Linked DNA regions of Homo sapiens: region 1 is linked to region 2. Evidence: fine-mapped expression QTL. Tissue or cell type: testis. Region 2 holds a variant in brackets; the other region holds the start of a gene. All regions are shown on one strand. Distances are from middle to middle.

Region 1 (8,103 bases), 470 kb before region 2:
TAGCACAGCATTTGATCTAAGGCCTAAAGACTTTCTTCAGGTTAAGGAAATGTTCTTCTGTTATTTCCTTGATTATTGATTTCTTCTTCATTAATGATGCCTCCATCTGGAACTCCTATTAGGCTAATATTGATTGGATATTCTGGATCTCTCTGTTATATCTTATATTTTATCTGATTTTTTAAATCTCTTTTGTGTGCATGTGGTGTGTGTGTGTGTGGTGTGTGTGTGTGCGCACTTTTTGGGGAAGAGCAGTGGCATTTCAAAAGGAGCTGATATCCTGCCCCTATTCAACCTTTGGCTTCTATTATATTTGGAACAAACCTCTCACTTTCCAAAGAAGCTGTGGACCTATTTCTGTGTCCAGCCATTCTGTGTGGAGAAACTGACCATGTTCCTGATGTCCCTTAATTTGCCTTTAAACTGCTGCCTATGATTCTCCTCCAATCCTGATTCTCTGAGTTTGGGATTTTCCAAGACTGTTTTCTGGAAACCTGTACAGTTACTTCTTAGGGGTCTGTATTAGTCGGTTCTCACACTGCTAATAAAGACATACCTGAGACCAGGCAATTTATAAAGAAAAAGAGGTTTAATGGACTCACAGTTCCACATGGCTGGAGAAGCCACACAATCATGGCAGAGGTGAAGGAGGAGCAGAGGCACATCTTACATGGTGGCAGGCAAGAGAGCGTGTGCAAGGGAACTACCCTTTATAAAACCATCAGATCTCATGAGACTTATTCACTATCACAAGAACAGCATGAGAAAAACCTGCCTCCATGATTCAATTACCTCCCACCAGGTCCTTCCCATGACATGTGGGGATTATGGGAACTACAATTCAAGATGAGATTTGGGTGGGGACACAGCCAAACCATATCAGGGTCTTTGCAGAATCATGAGTTTATCAGTACTAATTAGTTTTTCCTCCCATGTCCCATCTACTTTGTATCTTCCCATATTATTCAAAATGTCTGCTTTATTGATGGCATCTTTCCCTGGTTCCCAGCATTGCCAGTGAATTTACCATTCCCCAAACCAAAAGCCCCCGTATGGAAATAGTGGAGAGTTCTGACACATCATATGGATAGATGGACCAAATGACCTTCCAGACTCATGTAACTCTGGGAGGCTTTTTCTTTAAAGCAGCATAATTAAAGGGTTGAGAAAAACTTTTACTGAAAAGGACAGAGAGATAGAGTTTAGTTTACTCAGGAGAACAGAATAAGGTGAGACTTAAATGGTGAGTCACACTAAGCCTGCTGAAGATACAGCAGGAGGGACTAAGATTAAATTACAGCTGAAGTGATTCATGTTGGTCACTACAAAGATCATTTAACCCTTAAAAAGTTGTGTGGCATCATGATACATTGCAAAGCCAAGTTACAAAGCCTCATTTTCTGGAGCTGTTCTCTTTAAAGGTAAGAGGATGGACTCGAATCACCTTCTGAATTATCGGACAGCCCTGTGACATGATTATACCTTGGTGCCTGAGATGTTAGATGGGAAATAAACAGCAGCATCTAGTAAACTCTCCTGGGGTAAAAAACAAAACAAAAAAAAAAAAACCATCTTGTTTTCACCCAGTCTTACTGATTTTTTTTTAGTGTGAAGACAGAATGTTTTTGTCAAAAACAAGTTCTCCAAATTTATAAACCTGATTGGAGACATCTTTAGTTTCTTCTCAAACATGCTGGGAAAATAGGAATGTCACTGAGACTCCTTCACCATCCCCTCGCAGCCCCTATTCCCCGGGGGGCTGGGTAGATGGAGAAGCAGGGGGCAGGGGCTGGACCAGGGAGAGAGTGACAGGCTCTCTGTGGTAGGTCTGTGCCTTGTCACAGAGCCTCCTGGGCTCAGGTCTGTGGTGGCCGCGGGAGAGCCAGCTCCACGCTGTGTGGCTGGTGACATTTCCGGCTGCCAGGGCCCAGCCAATCAGTGATGGACCCAGCTTGCTTGGGCGATGACACATGAAATATGATAATTTTCTGCCAAAGGGCCCTGGAAGAGGGGAAGGAAGAGAGTGTGTGTGTGTCGCTGGGAGGGGTCCACACAGGAGCGCCTGTGATGAGGTGGGAGGGTGACAGTGCACTTGTTTTCACGGTTTGCCTGGCAGGACTAGGCAAGGGAGGGAATGGGCTGTGATGCTGGAGCGGCTGTAGGAGCGCCCCTGTAGCTCCCGAGGTGAGCCACTGCCGCTGCTCTTAGGCGGGAACCAGCGGAGGAGCAGACAGCGCCATGCTGGAGCTCTGGGGCTGGGGTGAAAAAGAAACTGTCAAAGACATTTGCCTTCTTAACACACGTGAGCAAGGTTAGGACTCTTGTTTCTTCTCAGCGCTACCTCTTTAAAAGCCAGAACAAAACTGCAGTAAACACCATCTGGGTGGCTGAAGTACTCGAAGAATAATTTTTTTCAAAAAAATTTAGGCTGGAGGTTGTCTCTCCCCCTACCCTGTTTTTCTACCTCCATACCTCCATGCTGACCCTTAAAAGAAAAGTGAAAAACAAAACAACAGAACTCAATAACAAAATCTTGAAGAAGGGCCTAAGTCTGAATCGTAAAGACTCTAACTAAGGTTCAGGTGGTAGTTCTGATTCCTGATTCTGGTTGAAAGAAAGTATGTCTTGGAATGCGATGTGGCTCTGGATTATGTTCGACTTTAGAAATAGTGCCAGAACTATTCTTTGATTTGTGGACATGGACCCTGAGACTGCAGAGCAAGGCAGGGCAGGGCAAGGAGTGCCCGTGTTGAGCTCTCAGGTGCAGAGACCCCACTCCCTTCAGGCACTGTTGAGGCTCCCCGGCCCCTGATCTGCAGCCAGAGGCTGGTGAGGTGTGACACGCTTGCTGACAAGAGTGCCCTGTCTCGTCTGACCCGTGAACATGGGTGTTCAGAAGTGAAGGATCATAGTGTTTACATAACGTGCCAATTAGTACTGAGAAGCTCATCAGTGCAATAAATATTTATGACTTGCATTTGCATTTTTTCTCTCCACGTATATATATATAATATGTGTGCATATATATGTGCATATATATGCACATATATTATACATATATGTTGTTTTTTAAAAAGCACCAATAAATGAAATCCTTATCACTGTGTGCAAGCCTACTGTGCCTTTAGGCATGGGACTGGCTTCCTGCGCTGGGAGTGACAGCTATTCCGAAGTGATAATTGGTGTACTGTGTCTTTAAAAGGTTAAACCCCCTTTCAAAAAAGGTCTGGACTCCTAGTGGAAAAGACAAGCGAGGCATGGGTTGGCTCTGGATTCAGAAAACAGCTGCTGATTAGATTCTGTGTCTGCAGGCTGAATTTATTCCGTGTTTTTCAGCAGCACGAATTCAAGAGGGATGCTTCTGTTTGGGTTTCTGATCGTGATTTATATTTATTCAGAGGAATAACAGAGGGTGGATCTGTTCCCGGCGCGAGCATGCTCACAACCAGCCGACTCTCCCATTATCCAGCTGCCTAGTTTGGTGCTTCAATGTACATGGCTATTCCGTGTGCATATGTGTGTATACAAACACGCATGCATGCCTGGATGGACATACGTATGCACAGGTTATTTTTTAAGGACAATTCTTTCAATAAGGTCTTTACCCCTTACTTGAAACAGGTGTTCATGAAAAAAATGCACAAAATCCTGCCTGGCCGGAATAATTCATGAAGAAGGGGCTGGATCCGTGGGTCAGAGAACACAGGACCAGTTTGCCATCCCAAGGCCGAAGGTAGGGGACTCTGGGTTTTTATTCGGCGGATGGATTCCTTGCGCTGTATTTTACCTTGTGATTGTGTTTTTGCCTGAGGCCGCACCGCGAAGCAGAATAGCGAGCTGCGATTCCATTTTGTGTATGCCTTTCTTAGGCAAGGTGTCCGGCTGCCGAGACGCAGGGGCCGGCCGGGTGGGCTGCGCGTGGCGGCCAGTGCCCCCGGTGGGCTGAGCGCGCTGCTCGGCCTGGTGCTGGGGAGCGGCGCGAGCCTCAAGTGACCCCCGCGCGTCAATCACAGGCGGCGGCGGCGGCGGCGGCGGCGGGGCTGTAACCCTATGCGCGCCGTGCGCTCCAGCGCTGCTTGCAGCAGGCTCTGCTGGGCTCTGCACCCGCGCACTGGCGGCCGGCTCCATAGGAGCCTCGGCTGGGGGGCTTAGGCATCGCGTTCCGTGGCACCGGCGTTTTCTTGTGCTGCCTTGGCTGCTGCTCCGGATTGTTTAGGCGGACTGCAGTAGCCTGCTTGGTTGAGAGTGAGATTCGTATGATGCTGGCTGCTGAGACAGAGGGGATAGCTTTCTTTTTCCCCCTTAATCCTAGCCCCCTGAAAATATTCCTAAAGCAAAATCATTTCCCAACCCCCAACCTGACCCAACCAAACCCAAACCAAACTCCTATTCTATAGGGGATTCTTGCCTCCCTGCTAGCAGAGAGAGTGTCCCCTCCAAGTTATGCCCCACATTTTACTATCTTTTAAATGGAAACACTGATGGTGCCGAATGGTCCCTAATGATATTGTCCAGGCTGCTGAGGACTCCTGAGTGTGGCAGTGGTGCAGAGGAACTTGGAGGCTCGGCATTGGTTTCCTTTAACGTAGCTGGTTTGGTTTCTGTTGCAGGTCAGGAATATTTCTGTGGCTAGGCCCTTCCTTGAACTTCGGGGGCAGTGGTTGCAGGAAGAGGGTCTGCAGATCTGGTCGCTGGGTGAGCAGCACCCTGGCCCTCTTTCTGGTATACGCTGACGTTTCTGGTAGCCCTTGGCATTGTAACCACAGCAGCCAGGTGCCCACTGGCTACCTGGAGTGCTTCGGTTTTGTTAACTCTGGTGTGCATTTTGGGTGTTACGGGGGGAGGGAAGAGGAAAGAGGGAGAATGAGGTGTTTGCTGAACTGATCTGCATGGCAGTGTTCTCCAGCCCATGTTTGTGTGATTATGTAATGATCAGACGTGTGCCCAAACAGCTCCCCACCATCTCCTGGCTCTCCCCCAGACTGAAGAAGTTGGGTGCTACAGTTGTTTAAGACGTCTTTATGTAATTATGTGTATGCTGGGGGCAGGGAGAGAGTGGGGGCAAGGAGGAATAATTCTAGCAACTTAAATGTGAAGAATACAGGTCAGTGATCGTGTGTCCCTCTGAGGACAGTGTGGTATTAGCTCTGGGTCAGTGTTGATCTGAAGACCCTCCTGTGTCTCTTTCAGCCAGTAATTGCTTATCTGAACTTTCATTTGGTAATTTCACCCCTCTTGCACCCTGGAGACAGTTGGACCCAGGAGAAGGACCCCTGCAGGGCCTCCAGTTTCCCAATTCCAGGCAGAAAATGAATCCTGAAGCCAAGGTAATAGGCCAGGTCCCAGCTGTTCTTCATGGTCCTGCTGAGCAGCCAGTGTAGGGAGGAGTTCCTGTCCACTAGGGTGTCACTTGTGCTCTGGGGTTGGGCTATACTGTGGGGCTGAAGAATAGACCTCAGATGCCGTCTGAGCTGTTTGACATATGCTCTTTAAAGTTGTGATGGCTTGCAGAGGCTGGAGGCCCTTTACATAGTTGCATTTAAAGATTGTGGGAGTTTTTTGCAAGGAAGGTGGACAGCTGTCCAACTAAGACACCTGCAGGCAGGAGGAGAGGGTGGTGTGACACTTAGCTCTCTGCTTCCTCTCCACTCCATCTAGTTAAGGCACCCACAGGATACAGAATTGTTAACAGGGGCCCTCCTGTCACACCCCTGAGCGCCTCAGCCTGGGGCTGTTGGGCAGATTTGTTAATTTGATGGCAAAGTCTGGCCCCTTAAGGCTAAGATTGTTTTTTTGCCCTCAACACCCCAGTGGGTTTGCTTTGAGGGCCAACTACTACTGTGAACTCTGTGGCAGTGGATCAAGATGTGCTCAACTGGCACTATTGTTGAGCTGTCTCCGCCCATTGTGTTTAGTGGCAGCCACCCTCCTTGGAGTGGAGAAGTGTGTGCTGCCTTTGGGTCCTTGCCAAGTGAGCTGTTGAGACATTTAGTGTGTGAAAGGTACAGGCAAGAAGAAGATGCATTTAGTCTGAAGTCCTGGCAGGTTCTAGGACATGATTTGATGAAAGATAACATTAAGAAAGCTGTGTGACAACTGGATAGCATTTAACTTGTCTCTCACTCCCTACTCTGTGAATTCCCTAATGTCTTTAAGGCTCTTTTTTGCCCTCCATCCTGCCCATCAAGGAGTCCCTGACATGCTGTTCTCCATCCTGTTTCCTGTGGAGTCAAAGTGTATTTACAAATCTGCAGATGCACTAGGCGGGCAGGGCTGGAAAACACTGGCTGTATCAACAGGCAGCACTAGCATTCTGGGTCAGACTTGGCCAAAGCCCGTGACCAATTTTCTTCCTTATCTGTAAAGTAGGTGTAACCATCATAACCTTACCAAGACCACTGAACTATCTTGAGAAGAAAAATGAGATACGTTTAGTAACATGCTATGTAGTTGATAGGTATTAGGATAATACCACAACAATCTGGAACTCACATTTACATAATTTCACTTATCCAGTTGGGACCTAGATGGCAAATCAAGAGAAAGGTCATAAGTCCATGAGCTACAGTTTATGAATTTTGATCATTGGAGGAAATTTTATACCCTCTTTCAGGCCTCTGCATTTACTTCAAGTTTTAAGAGGCTTGGTTATTAGTTTGTCAAATGCACCTAGCAAATTGGAAGCAACTGATACTGTACTGTGCAAGGATTATTAAAGCTCTTTTATCAAGTATCAGTAAGAAGTAAGAGTAAAAAACAGAAAAACTAAAAAAAAATTTAAAAGGCACAAGAATTCAAGGCATGGAATTCTAAAGCTGATATGAGCATTTAATGTAAGCAATTCAGTGAAATTTTATGTATTTTGATGGATCTTTGGTACTCTGTTTTATAACATAGTAACTGATGCTCACAATGACCCACATGTATCCATAGAAGTTAAAATTATATTTTGTTCATCCAATTTAAAAAGACAGAGTTCTGAAGTATCCCCAAAAGATTTTTTTTTTTTGCATGATTCTTAGAGAAAAAACTGCAACTATCCATGATAATGGCACCTGTGAGGTTTCTGGATAGCCGGTGGCTTACTGGTCAAAATTATATTACAACTATAAAGCCCTGCTGTTGAAATTGAGAACTTTATGATCTTTTGTCAAAATTTATCAGGGAACTACTATGCTACTGTTATTATTAGTGGTTATGTTCTAACATTTAATACTAAAGAAAATATTCATGAACCTCAACCTGTCTTGTTATGATCAGGAAACACACTTAGAGTTGTTCCAACTTGATGACTTTAATTCTGGAGTTGGAAGAGACCTGGTGATGGAAAAGATGGAGCAGGAGAGGTAGACCCTACTGCTATCTGTTTCTTACATCTGTGTAGCAAATGTAGACTTACCACTACCCGGATGTTGTTCAAGCTGTCATGGCCACACCCTTATGGTAAGCAATGGTGTTTTTTCAGTTCAGACATCGTGCTGAAAACTGGAAGGTGGCTGAGATACACGAGCAGTGCCAAACTTGGCCTGACCCTCTGACAATGTGTTCAGTTAAAATTTGCTCCAAAACAAAGGCAAGAGGAAAAACAAAAGTAGAGGAAAATAAATGTAGACCCTTTTAAAATAGTATTTTAAAAATTCAATACATATGTGGAAAACGTGAGGACCTAACTAAAAGTCATGGAAGAGTATTTCTCAGTTTCTAGATGTACATACATTCATTGTTTTGGTAACTTACTTGAAAAAATTCTTTAACTAAAAGAAACTGTCAGTAACAGGTTATTGAATATAATCACAAATACTCAGAACTCTCCAAAGGTTCCCTGTATCTAATTGTAATATGATGGAGAAAAGGTATTCCCTGAAGTCCCAGAGGGCTTGGAAGGCAGAGGAGGTGAGGCATGGTGGTGGGAAGTGACTGAACCACACTATCCAGAGGACTGCCCTGTTGGGAGGTTTCACAGTTGGAAATATGTGCTTGGGAGGCAGGACAACAATGGAAGTGGTGAGTACATGACTGATGGGTCTCCCCTCCTCATTACTAAGTGTTTTTGAAATGCCAGGTGCAGCTGGAATTCTTGTGGATAAAGGGGGAAGCTTTATA
Region 2 (8,103 bases):
GATGCTGAAACTAGCCCCAGATAGATCTGGGTTACCAGCTGCACACAGACTGTGACCTTGGTAGGAGACTACTCCCCTCACTCGACCTCGGCTTCCGTATTGATTAACTAAGGATGGGTATCAGAGCAAGTCAGGACCGTAATAAAAGGTAGGGTTTATGAGTACTTCATGTCAGGCAACAATCCCTTAATACAGTTAATGTTATTACCCTGGTTTACAGATAAGAAATCAGAGGCTTAGCGAGGTGGAGTCACTTACCCAAGGCTAGTGACTAGGAAATAGGCCAATGCGGATTCACCCGCAGGACTATCTGACTCCGGAATCCTGCTCCATAACAAAAAGCTGCCAACTTGAATAAGTGTTCATGACCTTTGACCTGGGCCGCAATCAATCCCCAGGACTTTATCCATAGGAATGAATCCAAGAAAGCCAAAAAGATGTTCCCTGCAGCCATATTTACAATATGGCGGATAATCAGAAGCAATCTGTCTGTCCAACCACAGGGCCCTATTCGCTTTACAATTAGGCAGCTTCAGAGATTGGGGTTTATTGAGCACTAGCTCTTTCTCAATACTCTGTCATAATCCCCACACCAACCCTGTGAAGTGGGTGTTGCTTTCCCCATTTCTAGACAAAACCTCTAAGTTCAGAGAGGGTGAGCGATTTGCGAGAGTACACAGATGGTGACAGACATGGGTCTGTTCACAGCCACCCAAAGGTAGAAATGGGGAGATCTGTTCTATGAGGAAGGAAGCTAAAACTCAAGAGAGGGTGAGGGGGCCTCTGCTCAAGGCCACACAGTTGGTGAGCAGGACAGTTCGGGTTTGACCTCAGGCACTGGGACCCTGCACTCTGGGACCACATCCTGCACTGCAACTTCCCACTGGGAACACCTGGATGAGTCACTTAGCTTCTCTAGGCCTTGGTTCCTCGTCTGTAAAATGAGGATAATAATGTTCATGGCATAGGGTGGCTGTAGCGAGGATTAAGTGAGTTTCTGGCCAACAGTAATGGCATCATGTAAGCAGAAGCACGTCCAGGCTTGGGGTGGAGAGTGGTTTTATGTGATGGTGTGGTTGGGGGTGAAAGAGAGGCTGGGGACAGGGTGGGTGTGAGAGAATTTAGGGGGACAGAAAGAGGCCATGAGAAGGGCTTGGCAGTCTCTGTGATGATTTTCAGAGGCCTTTTGGTTTTTTGTTTGTTTTTTGAGACGGAGTCTCGCTCTGTCCCCAAGCTGGAGTGCAGTGGCATGGATCTCGGCTGACTGCAACCTCCACCCACCAGGTTCAAGCGATTCTCCTGCCTCAGCCTCCTGAGTATCTGGGACTACAGGCCCAGCCACCACGCCCAGCTAATTGTTTGTATTTTAAGTAGAGATGGGGTTTCACCAGGTTGGCCAGGATGGTCTTGATCTCTTGACCTTGTGATCCACCCACCTCAGCCTCCCAAAGTGCTGGGATTACAGGTGTGAGCCACCACGCCAGGCCTTCAGAGGCCTTTTGTATGCTGCCCCTTTGACTGTGGCCAGGCCTTTTATCTGTGGACCAGGCCTTTTGCTAGGGTTACCCCTACCCAGAAGGCAGGCCTGCTACAGTGGTTCCAGCTCCAGCCCAGGCTGGCCTCACTGGAAGGGACAAGGCATGTTTGCTGACTAAAGGATTCGGCTCAATCTTTCCAAGACTTTCAGAGTTGGGAAGACAGTAAAGGTCACCTCGTCCACCCCATTCCTTTCCGCACAGGAGAGCAAGAGCTTATTCAGGGTCACACAGGGAATAATGTCAGAGCCAGAAATGGAATCCAGAGTCCTGTCACTCAGGCCTTTTTCCAATATGGCACTTAACCAGGAGGAGCCTTGCCTCTGGTCCAGCTTTACAACCAGCTGTGGGACCCAGATTCAGGGGCTTATGGCTCAGCTGATGATCTCACAAGGTTGGAGGAGCATTAAATTGGATAATAGATGGGAACTTGCTTGGAAAGAAAACCAGTGGAAATGTGGAGTGAGGCTGGGGCCTCCCTGAGGCACAGCACAGAAGGGTGGTGGCAGGGAACACACAGATGTGGCATGAAGGGGCTGCAGGGAGGCTGAGGCTGGGACAAGTCTCCACTGGGGTCCGAGTGGCCACCTGCCCTGCAGGGCAGGTGGCAGGGAACTGAGACCCGGCAGAGGGAGGGGAGGCCAGGTAACCCACTGGGCTCCTCCAGCAACGGTGAGACAGAGACACAGTGAGGCCAAGACTTTCGCAAGCTCACCGCTGCAGCCAGAGGCAGGAGAGCGGTTAGTAAACAGACAACAAAATCCCAGAGCCAAATACCCCCGGGCGTGTCCCAACCCAACTCTCTGACAGGCTCAGAGCTGGCCTTGCTTAGATTTTCTGCCCCTTTCCAAGGAAGTGGGCAGCCCATGCTTAGACTTGGAGACGCTGATGCCTCCCTCAGGCCAGTCCTTCTGCCTCTTCCCCCATGCAGACTCATCCACAGATTGCCTCTGGGTTTATTGCTTGCCTTCCTTCTTTGCTGGACTCCAGCATTGTCCCACCCGTCTTGTGTGGATCCTGCTATCGGTTTGCCGACCCTTCTTTCCAAACCTTCCTTATACTCCCATTCAGACCCTTCAACCTGGCATTCAGCATCTCCATGATGTAAAATGGGGAGTATGATCCCTCCTCAGGAGTCAAACCTCTTGGCACAGTGCAGATCACAGAGATGCCACTCGGTACACTTTAGCTATTATTATCACTATCAACACTATTATTACCTCATGCAGTCCCGTGCAGCAAACACACTTTCTGGAGCATCAAGCCACCAGCCATGTAACGAGGTTGCCAACTCACAAAACCCCATGAAAGTATTAGAAACACTCACCTCCAGCCCAACTGAAATATGGGACACTGCGGCCCAGGCTCCAGAGCCGGTTAATGGCAGAGCTAGACCAGAAGCCTGATCTCCTGCCTCCCGAGCCAGAACTCTTCCCTAACAAGCTGCCACTGCTAGGAGCCAAGTTCAAACACCAGCCTTTAC[G/A]TATGGTAGTCTCAGAGTACACAAAGAGCAAACCTTGGCTACATATAAGAATCTTTATTATTTGTTCTCACTGTTAACTTCCCCCTTTTAATACCCCTAGGTACCTTCAGAGGGGGCTTCTCTCTCCTCCTTCCAGCCAAGGCTTGTTTATCTCTCCACTGTTTTTTCTCCCCCTCACTTCCTTCCCCTCTCCATCACTGGGGAGGCCTTTCTCTGACCTTCCCTGGCAGAGCCAAAGGGCAATTGCCAGCTTGCCTTTTCACTACTCAGCTAAAAAGCCAAATTCCTTTCCTCCTGGGGCTCTACTGGATTTTTTGTTGTTGTTCTTAGCCTCAAGGGTCTATTCTGGGAAAGACACTGAACCTCTCTCTCCTGACTGGCTCCCTCTTCTTAAACATGCCCAGTTCCTCCCACCCTAAAAACCAACAAGCAAACAAATCAAGCCTGTCTATCCTCTTCAATTGAACTCGGTCCCATTCCTTTCCTCCTCCTTCAGCCCCAGTTCCTGGCAGTAACCTGTTATCTCCAAGTCCCATCTCCTAGGCTTCACCTCCCACGAGGCTGTCTCTGCCCCTCCCCACCCTCTACTCAACCTGCTCCTGCTCAAGGCCCCGGACCTCCATTTTGCTAAATCCAACCGGCGTTTTACAGTCGTCAACCTGCCTGGGCTTTCGGCCTCCTCACACCTGCAGACCACACCCTCCAAGGGCCTTCTGGATTCTCTGACTTGATATTCCCCCACTGCTCCGCCAGCAGCTTCTCGGTGTCCTTGGTGCCTCTTCTTCCAACAGTCATTGACGTTGTGTCCTGGGCCCTCTTCTCTTCCCATGTTCTCTCCCTAGCCTCCCCCATAGCTGACTTTCCATCTCTAGCTCATAATTCCTAGATCATCCCACACCCGCCTCCTGAGCCCCAGGCCTGGGCACCCAGCTGCCTGCACTCAGGTGTCTCTCAGGCACCTCAATCCAAGCTTGGCTAGAACTGTCTCATGATTCTTTCTCTCAAGACCACCCCCTCCCTCCCGACCCCCCCATCTCCGTAGATAGCCCCTCCATCCACCCCTTCTTCTTTCTCACCCGCCTCCCCAGCCAGTCACCAAGTCCTGCTGAATCCATCTTCCAAGCACCTGCACTGTGTGGGCCACCCACCTGCTTCTGACTCCCTCACTGTGACCTGAGCCGGGGCTCTCCAGCTGCTCCTGAGAGTCTGCAGCAGCTGCCTAACTGGTCCCTCAAAGCCATACTTCCCCCTCATTCCATTCTGCTTACAGCAGCCAGGGATCTTTCTACAACACAGATCTTTTGGTCATTTCCCTGCTTAAAACCCTTCACCATCTCCCAACTCTTCTCCAGTCAAACCCCCAAATCTTCAGCATCTCCCTCCCCCTAGCTCTCTGCCTTCCAGCCTCCCTGGCCTTTTTGCTTTTCTTTCAATGCCTCCATTCCTTGCTGCTTCTGAGGCTGTGCGCTTGCTGGTTCCTCTGCCTGGAATGCTTTTCCTTCCCCCTCTCCCCATCCCCAAGAGATGCAGCCTAGAGTTGCTTCTGCACTTCCTACCAGCTCACACTCCCCTGGGGCCCCTGAGTTTTCCATCAGCTGCCAGGTTGTTTGCAGTCAGCCATGGGTGCCTGAGGCTGCTTGATTCATGTCTGTCTCGGCTCCTGGACTGCAAATTCCATGAAGGCCAGGGGCCATGTCTGTCTTGCTTACTCTACAACCACACTGTGCCTGGCCCATAGCACCGCAGAGCCCCAGCTGACCAGGCTTCCCTGTCCATACAGCCTGTGCTGATGGCCCAGGAGCAGACTCTTAGTGTGGAATTTAAGGGCCTCATGATTGGACTCCACCCACTTTTCCAGCGCTCCTTGGCCCTAACCCTTTCCACATGCCTCCCCCTATCCAGACTGGGGACCTCCCCCTCCCCCCCTTTGCTCCCACCACTTCCCCTCCTCTCTCTTTCTTGGATGTTCTAGCCAGCCCAAGCCCATATCCTCCTCGACACCTCCGTTCCTGACCACACAGCCATCTTCCCCTGGGTCGACAGAGCACCCACCCACCATCCCTTCAAGCATCCTCCACTATCTCCAGGACGAAGTCACAAAGCACTTGGGGCCCTTCCTCATCCATCCCCACTTACTGTCTCAGCACCACACTACCCACACAATAAACACCCATCCCCTCTGGCAATGCCCCATTGCCAAACATGCTCCTTGCTTCATGCCTCCAGACACTCCCTGCCCAGATGGCTCTGGCCCTCATCCCTCCTTGATAAACTCCTCCTTGAGACCAGCCCGAACATTCTCTCTTCCAATTGCCGTCCTTGGCCCCTGGGCTGAGGTCTGCCCTCTCCAGAGTCCAGCACTCGAAGACTTAGCCTTCAAAGCCATGTTTCCTGGGTTCCTATCCTGCCTCCATCTCTTACAAGCTGCAGGGTCTTAGACAAGTTACAAACCCTCAGCTGCCTCATGCATAAAATGGGAGCAGTAATGGCCCCCACCTCATAGAATTTTATGAGGATTAAATAAGGAAATCCAACTGGGTGTAGGCTCATGCCTGTGGTCCCAGTTACTTGAGAGGCTAAGGCAGGAGGATCGCTTGAGCCCAGGAGTTTGACACCAGCCAGGGCAACATAGTGTAGACCCCATCTCCATTTTTAAGAACATTAAAAATTTAAAAATCCACAGTAAGTATTTAAGCAAGTGCTTGGGCACCTATTGCGTGCTACTGTGAAGCTTCTAAGCTTCTTTCCTCTCTTTGGCCCTGATTGGCTAACAAGCCTGTCCTCCATCTGGCCTGTGCTAAGAGGGGAGACTCAGCCCCTTCCATCTCTGGGTCTCCCTTGCCTAGCCCTGTCCTGGTTCTGAAAAAGCTCAATCAATGCTTATTAAAGAGCCAATAGACCACACACTTGGAGCAAATCATCCCTTTGTTCCTTCACTTTCACATGTATAAATCTTATCTCTCCTCACAGGATTTGAGCTCTAGGGTATGGGGGTTGGGGCTTCTGGGGAAGGAGAGCAGAAGGGGTGTCTTCATGTCAGAGCATTCAGACCTGGGAGGGAGCTCTGTGCTCCTGCATCCCTCTACCCCCCACAGTGCCCAGCCCAGAGAAGGAGTCAAGGAGGGCTTGTTGACAGATGGGCTCACGGTCTTCCCCCGAGAGGAGGCACGTCTCCCCCTTCGAGATATTGCCCTAATTACTCCCTGGGCTCTCCCCTCCACACGCACATCTGTGTTCTTAGGCAAGATCCTGCTTGACATACTCCACGGAGTTCTCTTGGCTGCCGGTTCGAAGCCAGCTTGGCCAGTTTCTTCAGAAACTAAAGCAGAAAGAGAAGAAAGTTTTCTTAAAGCCACAGAGCACGAAACCAGAACAGAGGATGAATTCATTGTCATCAGCAAAACATCAGCCTAGACTAGCACTGACTAATCTCCACACTGTCCAAAGGGGGCACGGATGGCATAGCAGAAGAGTTAAGTGTGCTGGACTCTACAGTTGGAGAACCTCCGATTTGAATCCAGGCTTTGCCACCAAGCAGCTGGGTGACCTTGGGCAACTTACTTATCCTTTCTTTTTTTCCTTCTTTTTTTTTTTTTTTTTGAGATGGAGTCTTGCTCTGTCACCCAAGCTGGAGTGCAGTGGCGCAGTCTCGGCTCACTGCAAGCTCCGCCTCCTGGGTTCATGCCATTCTCCTGCCTCAGCCTCCTCAGTAGCTGGGATTACAGGTGCCCGTCACCACGCCCGACTAATTTTTTGTATTTTTTAGTAGAGACGGTGTTTCACTGTGTTAGCCAGGATGGTCTCAATCTCCTGACCTCGTGATCCGCCCTCTCGGCCTCCCAAAGTGCTGTGATTACAGGTGTGAGCCACCGCACCTGGCCTACTTATCCTTTCTAAGCTGCAGTTTCCTTGTCAATAAATTGGGGATAATATTTGTACTAGCTCAGGAGGATTTAATTAGATGAGTGCTCCAAAGGTTGGTCATTGTTATTTTGCCACTGAATGTCAGAGCCAGAAGGAACTTCAACAGTCCTCTTGGAGAGAGGGCACTGTGGCCTGTGAAGGCAACCGGATCTGGATAAGCCATAGAGCAAATTGGTGCTTTCCCTCTACCCCTTGTCACCAATGACATTTTTCAGAGAACCAAGAGGTGTCTGCTCCTTCACCCCCGGACTCAGAGGTCACCCGCCTTGGTTGGAAAAGCTCAAATTTGGGGATCTTGAAGGGGGAAGGGCAGAGGCATCCATGCCAACATAGGGCCTGTTGTCAGGAGGCCATTTGTTCAGGATGAGCCCCCTCCAGCTCAGGGTGGCACTGCCCATCAGTGATGCCATGACAGGGCAGATCAGATCACAGCCTCCACTTGCAGTCCATCCAGGGAAGTGCTGCAAACACAACTCAGATCTTGCAGGGATGAGGACTTTGGAGCCAGGTAGGCAGGGCACTGCCTGCTCACCTTCTCTAGCTGGGCTCAGCTCTCTGGCCTCTGCTCAGCCTGGCCCAGGGGCTCCATCTGCCCACCTGTCTGCCAGATGGAGTGCCTGCTCTGCTGTTTCCCTTTTACCCACTCCAGATACATCTTGCCCACAGACTTTCCCTCTCCCAGATGCTCAGGCAGACCTGGTGGTGCCATCTAGAGGGGTCAGGGTGAGCACGATGGTTGGGGAGTAGGGGGGAAAGGCCTTTTAACTGAAGCTTGAGGAAGCATGGTTTGTTTGTTTGTTTTTGTTTGTTTGTTTGTTTGTTTGAGACAGAGTCTTGCTCTGTTGCCCAGGCTGGAGTGTGGTGGTACGATCTCTGTTCACTGCAACCTCTGCCTTGCCTGGGGAAGCATTAAAGAGCCTGTTTTATCCTCCCGCCAGGGAGGGAGTTACATCGAATCAAGAAAGTAGTTGTCAAGCAATCTTTAAGCAAGGGGCCTAAGATGGGTTTTCAGTGCTGAAGAGGAACCCAAACTCCATCCAGAAAAGCACCCATCATTCCTTAAGTAGCCACTCTTTTCCTGCCACAAATCATGCATCATTCCATTTAATCCTCACAACAGCTTCTTCTTCACAGGGTGGTTTGTGAGGATGAAAGAGGAAG

Alleles and levels. Alleles are on the strand shown, and positions count from the first base shown. SD is a standard deviation of normalised expression in the study named.
With allele G in place of A in region 2, the expression in testis of the gene that starts at base 3,224 in region 1 is lower (moderate effect, 0.59 SD a copy in GTEx).

What was found. PIP is the estimated chance that this variant, and not a neighbour inherited with it, causes the effect.
Region 1: it holds the start of HIVEP3, and the variant in region 2 is fine-mapped to the expression of HIVEP3 in testis (GTEx, PIP 0.99).

What each region holds. Positions count from the first base shown.
Region 1 is chr1:41,914,043-41,922,145 of GRCh38, reverse strand. It overlaps HIVEP3 (HIVEP zinc finger 3), which reads left to right and starts at 3,224. Exons shown (of 9, transcript NM_024503.5): 1 at 3,224-3,733. RefSeq lists silencers at 3,893-3,942, 3,994-4,288.
Region 2 is chr1:41,445,127-41,453,229 of GRCh38, reverse strand. All of the region lies in intron 2 of LOC105378678 (a long non-coding RNA gene), which reads right to left. Among named protein-coding and RNA genes, the nearest start is that of EDN2, 36 kb to the left of the region's middle. RefSeq lists an enhancer at 1,597-2,156. The variant G/A (reference allele first, on the strand shown) is at 3,019.